Homo sapiens: one gene and its partners. The protein of the gene in region 2 purifies or fractionates together with the protein of the main gene of each other region. This does not show direct contact. Each region holds a gene or a part of one and is shown on either strand. Other genes may lie near its edges. The genes, in order: LSM12, HPDL and NUSAP1.

The links.
Region 1: the proteins of HPDL (region 2) and LSM12 fractionate together in Homo sapiens (co-fractionation; one large-scale study listed by BioGRID). This does not show direct contact.
Region 3: the proteins of HPDL (region 2) and NUSAP1 fractionate together in Homo sapiens (co-fractionation; one large-scale study listed by BioGRID). This does not show direct contact.

What each region holds. Positions count from the first base shown.
Region 1 is NC_000017.11:44,035,645-44,039,292, forward strand, and holds part of LSM12 (protein LSM12), read right to left. Parts: intron 2,541-3,648; coding exon of another isoform or gene 2,445-2,540; intron 1,895-2,444; coding exon 1,768-1,894; intron 1,459-1,767; coding exon of another isoform or gene 1,261-1,458; exon of another isoform or gene 1,218-1,260; intron 657-1,217; coding exon 564-656; 3' UTR 1-563. UniProt on the Homo sapiens protein: Nicotinic acid adenine dinucleotide phosphate (NAADP) binding protein. Confers NAADP sensitivity to the two pore channel complex (TPCs) by acting as TPC accessory protein necessary for NAADP-evoked Ca(2+) release.
Region 2 is NC_000001.11:45,325,377-45,329,124, forward strand, and holds HPDL (4-hydroxyphenylpyruvate dioxygenase-like protein), read left to right. Parts: upstream 1-1,518; 5' UTR 1,519-1,772; coding exon 1,773-2,888; 3' UTR 2,889-3,334; downstream 3,335-3,748. UniProt on the Homo sapiens protein: Iron-dependent dioxygenase that catalyzes the conversion of 4-hydroxyphenylpyruvate (4-HPPA) to 4-hydroxymandelate (4-HMA) in the mitochondria, one of the steps in the biosynthesis of coenzyme Q10 from tyrosine.
Region 3 is NC_000015.10:41,339,256-41,342,903, forward strand, and holds part of NUSAP1 (nucleolar and spindle-associated protein 1), read left to right. Parts: intron 1-3,130; coding exon 3,131-3,199; intron 3,200-3,648. UniProt on the Homo sapiens protein: Microtubule-associated protein with the capacity to bundle and stabilize microtubules. May associate with chromosomes and promote the organization of mitotic spindle microtubules around them.

The DNA of each region.
Region 1 (3,648 bases), on a different chromosome or scaffold from region 2:
AAAAATAAAACTAATTCAAGCCATGCCCTGTGCAAAAAAAAAAAAAAAAAGAAAAAAGAAAAAAAAAGGAAAAGAAAACAAAAATTTAAAGTGAGACGTTTGCTGCTCTGGTCTCAATTTAAGAATCACAGTCAGCTTGTTACTTTTATTTTGGAAGAAAAGATGTAAAAGTTTCTTTCAATCATTCAGAAGGCAAGTGTAGCCACTTATAAAAACAGAATGGCAGGAACAAACTAGGAAAGGAAAGTCAGAAGTAAAGGGCAGAGTGGGAAAATAATTTTCAAAAATAAAATTAACAAGGTGACTGTTCCAGAAGAGGGCTGTGAAAAGGACATGGTGGACCGAAGTCTGTTAGTCAAGTAATGATTCAACTTTTAAATTATTCTCTTGTTCTTTTTTGTTGGGTGTTTTGTTTGTTCAAGTCTAAGATTTGGAAATGCTGACCCTTTGTTAAGAGCCAACAGGACATATAGGATCCCTTCCCTCCCCCGGCCTGCCTCCGCTGAAGCCACCACCAGCGCCTCCTTGGCTGGATGCTGGAAGAGTCCTCCATGTGTACGGACTCAGGATGACAGGGCAGCCTCCTTCTGTGGTTGCTGGGCTTGTGAACGTTGCAGTATCTTTTGGCTTTCCACGTCTCTAAAATGTTTTTCAACCTGAAAAAGACCAGGCAACCCAGGTCAACAAAGGAGATGCGGAAGAAAGGTCTCCCAAACAATCCAACCCAGGTTTCCACAGCCCCATCCTGGCTGTCCAGCCCATTGGTGTCCAGGCACCTTTGCCCTTGCTGTCTATTGGCCTTCCCAACCACAAGGTAGGCCAGGGCCTCCTGCTTCAGCCACATTTTTTTGCAGTTTCCACTAAGATTGGCTAGAAGAAGGTGAATCTACAAACTAAACTATAAAATATAATAAGGGGAGATTATCATGACCTAAACTCCTCCTCTCTTCTATACCCAAGTACAAAATGAAAAGCTGCTGGGGGAATTACAGTCTTATCAAACCTCCTACATCTACAATGTTGGTCTCTCAATGTTCCTCAGAGGAAAAAAAAAAAGCAGGAGTGTTTTTTAAGTTTGTTTTAACAAATGCTAAGTCCAGTGACATATGTAGGGTCAGAGACACCGACGGCAACTGATTTATACCAACCAGATCTTTCTAGAATGGTACCTGCAGCTAAGAAAAACCCAATATGGGGCCAGGCGTGGTGGCTCATACCTGCAATCCCAGCACTTTGGGAGGCCAAGGTGGGCAGATCACTTCAGGTCAGGAGTTCGAGACCAGCCTGGCCAACATGGTGAAACCCCATCTCTAGCCGGGTGTGGTGGCATACGCCTGTAGTCCCAGGTACTCGGGAGGCTGAGGCAGGAGAATCGCTTGAACCCGGGAGGCGGAGGTTGCAGTGAGCTGAGATCGCGCCACTGCACTCCAGCGTGGGCGACAGAGCGAGACTCTGTCTCTAAAAAAGAAAAACTCAATATGGGATGAGAGAAACTGCTCAGGCCCAATACCATGGAACAGTCTTCCTAATTCCAAAAAGCCAGCAAAGGACATAGGGTCACCCACTCACTTCTTTCCACACCACCCAGTGGTTCCATTCCCACAGGACTGCAGAACCCCACAGTACAGGGAAGGCAGGGAGGCCAGACAGGGCCTCTGCTGCTAGAGGAGGCAGAGACTGTAGCACAATGTCCTGGTCTGGTGCTAAAGACTGAAGGCCTGAGGAACCATCCTCTCTCCCCTAAAGTCTGAAGGCTCCTTTACTTACTATTTTGCGTACATGGCTCAGTGCACTCCCCTCTTTGCCTTTACAGTTTTCCACTTGATATGGGGGTGTAATAACAACTTCTTCCATGACTACGATGTTTTTTTCTTGCCATTTACAGTCTTTAATGCTGGAAGGAGAAGACAGCAGGCGAAATGTAACCTCTTGGGGGCATCCCACATCTCCTGTCTGATGAATAAATAACTCCAGAAGGCTGATCCCAAGTTCCCAGCTCACCACTCAGCCAACAACTAGATGCCAGCAGCCCATATAGTAGCCAAGAAACATTCCTTGGGTGCCACTGGCTAGAAAAGCAATGAAACTCATGCACATTTATTCTTGGGAGAGCCCAGAAATTGTTACTCTGAAGCATCAGAGATCTGGAGAGCCATAAAAATGTGATAGTGGCCTCAAGAATCCAAATTAAGATAGCAGCCTAGGGCAGAGGCTGGCAAACTTTTTCTCTTAAGGGTCTTGTAACAAACATTTTAGGCTTTGCAGTCCATATCATCTGTTACAACTAGCACTGAGTTCTGCCATAGTTGTACAAAAGTAGCATGGACAATAGGTAAAACAGATGAGCAGATGTGGCCTGCTGGCATAGTTTGTCAACCATTGGCCTAGGGAGAAATACCACCTTTAGAAAGACAGGAGAACAGGTCGGGCGCGGTGGCTCACACCTGTAATCCCCGCGCTTTGGGAGGCCGAGGTGGGTAGATTGCTTGAGTCCAGGAGTTCGAGACCAGACTGGGCAACAGGGCAAAAACTCGTCTCTACTAAAAATACATACAAAAAATTAGCCGGTAGTGGTGGCATGCGTCTGTAGTCCCAGTTACTCCGGGGGCTGAGGTGGGAGAATCACCAGAGCCGGGGAGATTGAGGCTATAGTAAGCTAAAATCGCACCACTGCACTCCCAACCTAGGCAATAAAAGTGAGACCCTGTCTCAAAAAAAAAAAAAAAAAAGAAAGGCCAGGCACAGTGGCTCACGCCTGTAATCCCAGCACTTTGGAGGCCGAAGTGGGCGGATCATGAGGTCAGGAGATCGAGACCATCCTGGTCAACATGATGAAACTGTCTCTACTAAAAATACAAAAATTAGCTGGGCGTGGGACTGCGCGCCTGTAGTCCCAGTTACTCAGGAGGGTGAAGCAGGAGAATCGCTTGAACCTGGGAGGCAGAGATTGCAGTGAGCCAAGATTGCACCATTGGACTCCAGCCTGGTGACAGAGTGAGACTCCGACTCAAAAAAAAGAGAGAGAGAACAAACTCCCCATCTTCCTATGATCTGTACTCTGACCCTTATCACCCATAATGGGAGCTGCTCTTCAGACTGGCTCTTCTCAATTATCAGACAGTTGGGCACTTGCCAGACTGGGAAAACCCATTCCAGTTCACACTTGGGAAGCCCCAGGGCAGCTGATGCGACTGGGAGTTCCTTCACATACCTGTAAATGTTCAGATACTCACACCACAGCCTCAAACAGCTCTGATGCCAGCTGCCATCTGTGCACCAGATCCAGGGTGGTTAAACAGAGTAACAGATGGCAGTGTGGGGTGGGGGGAGGCGGGGTGGAGAGGGGTGTCAAATGTTCCAGTTTTTCAGCAGCTAGGGAAGCTAGTGGAGAGTCAAATGACTTCTGCTGTGACAAAATGTTTTTTTTTGAGACGGAGTTTTGCTCTTGTTGCCCAGGCTGGAATGCAATGCACAATCTTGGCTCACCACAACCTCCACCTCCAGGGTTCAAGCGAATCTCCTGCCTCAGCCTCCTAAGTGGCTGGGATTACAGGTATGCACCACCACGCCTGGCTAATTTTGTATTTTTAGTAGAGATGGGGGTTTCAACATGTTGGTCAGGCTGGTCTGGAACTCCCGACCTCAGGT
Region 2 (3,748 bases):
ACAGCTACTATTTACTGAACACTTACTCCACCTCACTTAATCACAACTCTTTGAAGTAGGTACTATTATTTCCATTTTTACAGATGGGCAAATTAAGGCTCAGAGGCGTTAAGCAACTTGCCCATACAGACAGTAAGTGTTGCTGGTGATTCAAACCCAGGTCCGTCTGGCTTTTGGAACTCATGTCCTCACATTCACTGGTCTGCAGAGTAGCACCAAGTACCTTTTACCACCCTGACCAGCTCCTGGGTACTGCCCTCCTGCCTGCAGGCCTGAACACCATGACATCCAGCTAGCCCCTGTCCCCTATGACATCCTTCTCCCTCTTGCCAATGAAACCCAGTAGATCAGGCTGCCTGACAAAAAAATTTCTTGTGATGCCTTGGACTGTGGCATTCATCCTAAATGCCTCCCTAACAGCATGGCCCATTGCTCCTCTAAGAGTCTGGCTCACACTCTTACTGAGTTTTTGCTTATGCCCTTTGCCCTTCTTGGATGCCCTTCCCTAACCCTTCAAGGGCCACTCAGTTGAAGTTCCAGAAGACTACAAATTCCTCAATCCAGTCATCTCACACAATTCTGGGTTTCAGAGCCAGAAGTGCCCCCACCACAGAAATCTCTGGCTCAATGCCAAGTCAGGAAGCTGCAAAGAGCAAGGAGGGCCTGTGTTCCAGTCCTCAAAGGATGGGGAAGGGGAATGACAGCCAGGCAGCTGTTCCTTTCAGATCCCGAACCGTCAGATTTTTCCTCCAAATCTTGCTTGGGACAAGGGGTTAAATGATGTTGACAGAAGGGTGATTGAAGAAAGAGACAGGACTGGTTGAGAGATTGCCCAACACTTTGGGAGGCTGAGGTGGAAAGATGGCTTGAGCCCAGGGGTTTAAAACCAGCTTGGGCAATATAGCAAGACCCCATTTCTAAAAAAAAAAATTATTTTTAATTAGCTGGGTGTGGTGGCGTCCGCCTGTGGTCCCAGCTATTTGTGCACTGAGGCAAGGAAAATCGCCTGAACCCAGGAGGTGGAGGCTGCAGTGAGCTGTGATTGTGCCACTCCAGCCTGGGTGACAGAGTGAGACCCTGTCTCAAAACATATAAACGTGTGTGTGTGTGTGTGTGTGTGTGTGTGTGTATTCCAGGGAACATTAAGACTTAGAGGCAAACTCCAGAACTTAAAGAAAAAACATGAAAGTGCTAAAAAATTCCGTGCTTGTGGAGAGAGAATTCCAACTCTTTCCCTGAACCCGGGCTGAGTCCCTTCGCTGTGAGGTTGGGGGGATGAGTGGGAGCCCAGTGCCTGGCGCCGAGTGAAGGCAGCCATTGTGAGTTCCTGGGCTGGGGAAGGGAGGCTCAGTGCCCAAGGATGTGACCAGGCGTGAGGCCCGGGGAAAGAGCAGCGCGGCGACCCCGCAGTATCCGAGGCGACAGGGTGTGGGGGAGGGGGTGGGGAGTCAAAGGCGGAGTCACGGGCTCCGCCCTCTTTCTCCTGCTTGGCGCGAGCACAGGCACCGCGTGGTTCTCACAACCAGCAGCTCGGCTCACTGAGACCCGGTGGTCCAGACGCTGCTCCTGGCTGGGGTGGCGCTGCAGGGAGAACCGCGAGCTCTCAGGGGTCGGCGGGTGACTTCTTTCCGGAAGAAAGCGAGGAACGCGCTCTGCGGGGTGAGCCGGACTCCCCAACTCCGGACGATCAGCCCAGGACTGAGAGCCCCGAAGTCCCCAACCACAAGTAAGCGGCCCCAGAAGGACAAGTCTAGGTCGCCGTCCAGAGCGCCATGGCCGCGCCCGCCCTTCGTTTGTGCCACATCGCCTTCCACGTGCCCGCCGGGCAGCCCCTAGCCCGGAACCTGCAGCGCCTCTTCGGCTTCCAGCCCCTGGCTTCGCGGGAGGTGGACGGCTGGCGGCAGCTAGCCCTGCGCAGCGGCGACGCGGTCTTTTTGGTGAACGAGGGCGCAGGGTCTGGAGAGCCGCTGTACGGCCTGGATCCGCGTCACGCCGTGCCCAGCGCCACAAACCTGTGCTTCGACGTGGCGGACGCCGGCGCTGCAACCCGGGAGCTGGCAGCGCTGGGCTGCAGCGTGCCTGTCCCTCCCGTTCGCGTGCGGGACGCGCAGGGTGCCGCCACTTACGCCGTGGTCAGCTCGCCTGCCGGCATCCTCAGCCTGACCTTGCTGGAGCGCGCTGGCTACCGCGGACCCTTCCTACCCGGCTTCAGGCCCGTGTCCTCTGCGCCTGGCCCCGGGTGGGTCAGCCGCGTGGACCACCTGACCTTGGCCTGCACCCCCGGCAGCTCCCCCACACTTTTGCGCTGGTTCCACGACTGCCTGGGCTTTTGCCACTTGCCGCTGAGCCCAGGTGAGGATCCCGAGCTGGGCCTCGAAATGACAGCAGGGTTTGGGCTTGGGGGACTGAGGCTTACAGCCCTGCAGGCCCAGCCGGGCAGCATTGTCCCCACTCTTGTTCTGGCTGAGTCCCTTCCGGGGGCGACGACACGACAGGACCAGGTGGAGCAGTTCCTGGCCCGGCACAAGGGGCCAGGCCTGCAGCACGTGGGGCTGTATACGCCTAACATTGTGGAGGCCACTGAGGGGGTGGCAACTGCTGGAGGCCAGTTCCTGGCTCCCCCTGGGGCATACTACCAGCAGCCAGGAAAGGAGAGGCAGATCCGAGCTGCAGGGCACGAGCCTCATCTGCTTGCTCGACAGGGGATCCTGCTAGATGGTGATAAAGGCAAGTTTCTGCTTCAGGTCTTCACCAAGTCCCTTTTTACTGAGGACACTTTCTTCCTGGAGCTGATTCAGAGGCAGGGGGCCACTGGCTTTGGTCAGGGCAACATCAGAGCTCTGTGGCAGTCCGTACAGGAGCAATCTGCCAGGAGCCAGGAAGCCTAAGGATGCCCAGGGCTGGGTGCAGCCAGCTGTCCTGCAGCTCTGGGGAGACCAGCACAGAACTGAGGAACATCTGCAGGAGGCCCAACTAGTGAAAGGCTTTGCCTCCGGGGGGCAGGTGTGACTTCCATTTCATCAGTGCCTGCCAGAAGCTGTGTCTCTCATTGGGCTCCAAAGAGGTGGGATTTTTTAAAACTAAAACATTTCTTATATACAGTCTATAATAAATATGTAAGATACAAAGAACAATAAAAGAATTACACACTAGGAAATAGAACATAACCAATACTTTCGAGTCCTCCCTGTGTCCCGCTGTGATTCTATTTCCTCCCACCCACTCCTCAAATCCTGTCATTATTAGCCCTTTGCTTTTCTGTATTGTTTCACTCCGTATGTAACATAACCCTAAATAAATTATTTCGTATTTGAGGTAGGAATTTAAAACAGAACAAATCTTCTCCTGTGCTTCCTCTCCCCCTAGGGAGCGACCACTCAGGTGGGGAGGGGCTGGGTGAGAGTTGAGCCCAACTACCTACTCCAGAGTGATGCCACCACTCCAATTAGAGCTGACCTGAGACGTAAACAGAGGGTGTTGTGTGTCAGCCACTGGCAGGTTCTCCCTGTAGCTGCCTTGCCTTTCTCCTGGGGGTTGGAGGGCAGATCAGTCTGGACAGAACACCCCCACTCCAACCCCATCTGCCCGGGGCTGGCTGGGAGTTCAGCCAGAGAAAGTCAGAACCAAGCAGAACGTCACCACTTTTCTGGGTCCCTCCCTCAGATATAAGGGGTGAGGGGGCTAGGGAGAGGGTGGAAGGCTGTCCAAAATAGCTACAAAAGGGCGGGCGTGGTGGCTCATGCCTGTA
Region 3 (3,648 bases), on a different chromosome or scaffold from region 2:
TATTTAGTGGTAAAGAATCATGATGTCTGGAACTTATTTTCAAATTCTTTCACAAGAATTATATATTAATATAGAGAAACCAAATATGAGACAATGCAAATGACTATTGAATCTTGGTGGGAAATATGAGTGTTTATTACATTACTTCGACTTTTCTTTTTTTTTTTTTTTTGAGACGGAGTTTCGCTGTTGTTGCCCAGGCTAGAATGCAACGGCATGATCTCAGCTCACTGCAACCTCCACCTCCTGGATTCAAGCAATTCTCTTGCCTCAGCCTCCCAAGTAGCTGGGATTACAGGCATGTGCCACCATGCCCAGCTAATTTTGTATTTTTAGTAGAGACAGGGTTTCTCCATATTGTTCAGGCTGGTCTGGAACTCCTGAACTCAGGTGATCTGACTGCCTCAGGCCTCCCAAAGTGCTGGGATTACAGGCGTGAGCCACCACACCCAGCCTACTTTGACTTTTCTATAGGCCTGACTTTTTTTCTAATAACAATTTAGGGGAAGAAATTAATTTTTTTTCTATTTTTTTATTTTTTTTGAGACAGACTTTCGCTCTTGTCACCCAGGCTGGAGTGCAGTGGTGCGATTCCGGCTCACTGCAACCTCCACCTCCCAGGTTCAAGTGATTCTCCCGCCTCAGCCTCCTGAGTAGCTCAGACTACAGGTGCCCACCACCACGCCCAGCTATTTTTTGCAGACATGGGGTTTCACCCTGTTGGCCAGGCTGGTCTTGAACTCCTAACTTTGGGTGATCTTCCTGCCTCGGCCTCCCAAAGTGCTAGGATTACAGGCATTAGTCACTGTACCTGGCTGAAATTCATAATTTTTGCTGTGGCCTTTACCTCTCTACTTGACCCAGCCTCTGGTCACATCTCTGATCTCCCTGCCCTCCATATACCTCAGTGTTCACCATACTTCTACCATAAGGGCAGTTTCTGTCTTTCAACTCATGAGTCCACCTCAGGGCTCCTGTTCTTGGCGCTCGCTCTGCTCGGAGTGCTCTTCACCTGCTGCCTCTTTCCTCATTCACATCTCGGGAGGCCTTTCCCAGCCATCCTAATTCAGGTAGCATCCCCACCCCACCCCAGTTGCCCAGTTTTATTTTTGCATCATAATACCTGACGTCATATCATTCATTTCTAGCTTTCTTGGGTAACTGTTTCACCTCTGCTAGAAGATCCTGGAGGGCAATCACCTTGTCTGTTTAATTAATCACTCTCTAGTGTCTGGAACAGTGCCCAGCACAATAAATGCTTGTTGAAGGAATGCATGAATATATGCTGATAACTAACATCTGCACCTTCAGCACAACTCTTGAACACCACCTCATATCATTCAACCTCCTCACTGGGTTCTGCCACAGGTGCCTCACTTCATGCATTTTTGTATGTTTGGTGAGATTTTGAAGGTATATTAAGAGAGTATTAGAAAAATCAAGAATGCCTGAATTCTGCCCTGCCAATCATCCCCTTCCCAGAGAAAACCTCAAGGGTGGTTCAAGGAACAAGTAGAAAATAAGGTACCACTTTATTACTAGCTGAAATAGTGCCTGATATCTTGATGCAGAGCATTCTGGTAAAGTGGATTGGAGACTGTGGCTTAGGCTTGCACCACAAGCAAAAGCTTGAGCACAAACCAAATTTCAGGATCTCTGCTATTCTCTACTGGACACATGGCCCATGATAAAAGGCATGAGAAGAATAGAGCCAAGCCTGGTGGCTGGGCCCACCTTGAGAAGGATGGCTGTGGCCCTCAACTGCATGGCTGGGTGGAAGAGGAAGAAAAAAAGAACCCAACCAAAAAACTTGACTTTTGTTTTTTAAACGGAGTCTTGCTCTATCGCCCAGACTAGAGTGCAGTGGCATCATCTCCTCGGCTCACTGCAACCTTCGCCTCCTGGGTTCAAGCAATTCTTCTGCCTCAGCCTCCCAAGTAGCTGGGACTACAGGCACACACCACCATGCCCGGCTAATTTTTGTTTTTTTATTAGAGACGGGGTTTCACCATGTTGGCCAGGCTGGTCTAAAACCCCTGACCTCGTGATCCACCTGCCTCGGCCTCCCAAAGTGCTGGAATTACAGGCATGAGCCACCCCGCTCAACCAAACTTGACTTTTAAAGCACAGGAAAATGTAACCAATCAAATTAACATTGTTCTTTCAGGAAAGAACAAGAAGGGAGGTTTTCCTAGGCTGGGAAGAGAAGCTCAGTGTTCCCTTCCCCCGGCAGAGACCTACAACCATCCCCCTAAGACCCCGTCACCTTTTGCATTCCTCATCTTAGGGACCGTACCACACTTCACCAGCTGTCCAAGCCAGAAACGTTGGCATAACAAAGTTTCCCTCTTCCTCAACTCTCATGTTCACACTGATTTCACTTCCTAAGAAGGTTTTGACTTCATCCATACTGCCTTAGCCCCGCTCCAGTTCAGGCCACAGCATTTCTGGCTCATCCCCATCAAATGCATCTTGCACATTGTGCAGGTAGACTACTCATTCTGAGTAATGCAAAATTGGTCACCCACTGCCTTGCTGCAAACTCTTCAGAGACTGCCCTTTTCTCTGAGAGTAAAGTTCATACTCTTTAAAGGCTTACAAGGCCTGGTAACATCACGGCCCTGCTCACTTTCCCAACATTGTCTCTTACTATCTCCTACAAACAGGTCCATGTTCCAGCCACACTGAACTTAAGTTCTTCAAACTCCACCCTCATTGTTGCCTTGCTGTGCCATTCCTCTACCTCTTTCTCTACCTTCTCTTCATCCTTCAGATCTCAGCAATTAGAGACATCACATCTTTATCTGAGAACTGCCCTGTGCAGATACTTGCTGAAGTCTAACCTAGCAGTCCCAACTTTGATGGCCATGCCTACCTATGTTCTCATGACAGCCTGAGCCTCCTAGCGTGGGCATTTACCCCACTGTATTGCAATTGCCTCTTTCCTTGTCTAACTTTCCCACTCAGATGTGAAATTCCTTAGAGCAGAGACCCATTCTTTCTAAGTAATGGTTCTAGTCCTATGGTCTGACCAGAGTACATTTAATGAATACAAGAACAGCAAAAAATATTCAACGTATCTTCCTTGTTTATTTGACTTTTGGCTCTAATAATAAGGTCTCTCTTGCAGGCAACCAAGTTGTTAAAAGCCTTGAAAGGCTACATTAAACATGAGGCAAGAAAAGGAAATGAGAATCAGGTGAGTAATGTTTTTCATGTTTACCTGTTAGCTAGCAAAATAATCATATTTGGTTAATGGGCAATTAACACACAACTAGTGATGATTTAAGACATGCTGTTGGCCAGGTGTTGTGGCTCACGCCTATACTCCTAGCACTTTGGTAGGCAGTGGCAGGCGGATCACTTGAGTCCAGGAGTTCGAGACCAGCCTGGCCAACATGGTGAAACCCCGTCTCTACTAAAAATACAAAAATTAGCCAGATGTGGTGGCGGGAGCCTGTAATCCCAGCTACTCAGGAGGCTGAGACAGGGAGAATTGCTTGAACCCGGGAGGTGGAGGTTGCAGTGAGCCAGGATCGCGCCACTGTACTCCAGCCTGGGTGACAGAGCAAGACTCCGTTCAAAAAACAAAAAAAAAGATATGCTGTTTATTAAAAAAGAGATCATTATTGGTAATAGTGCCAAGGA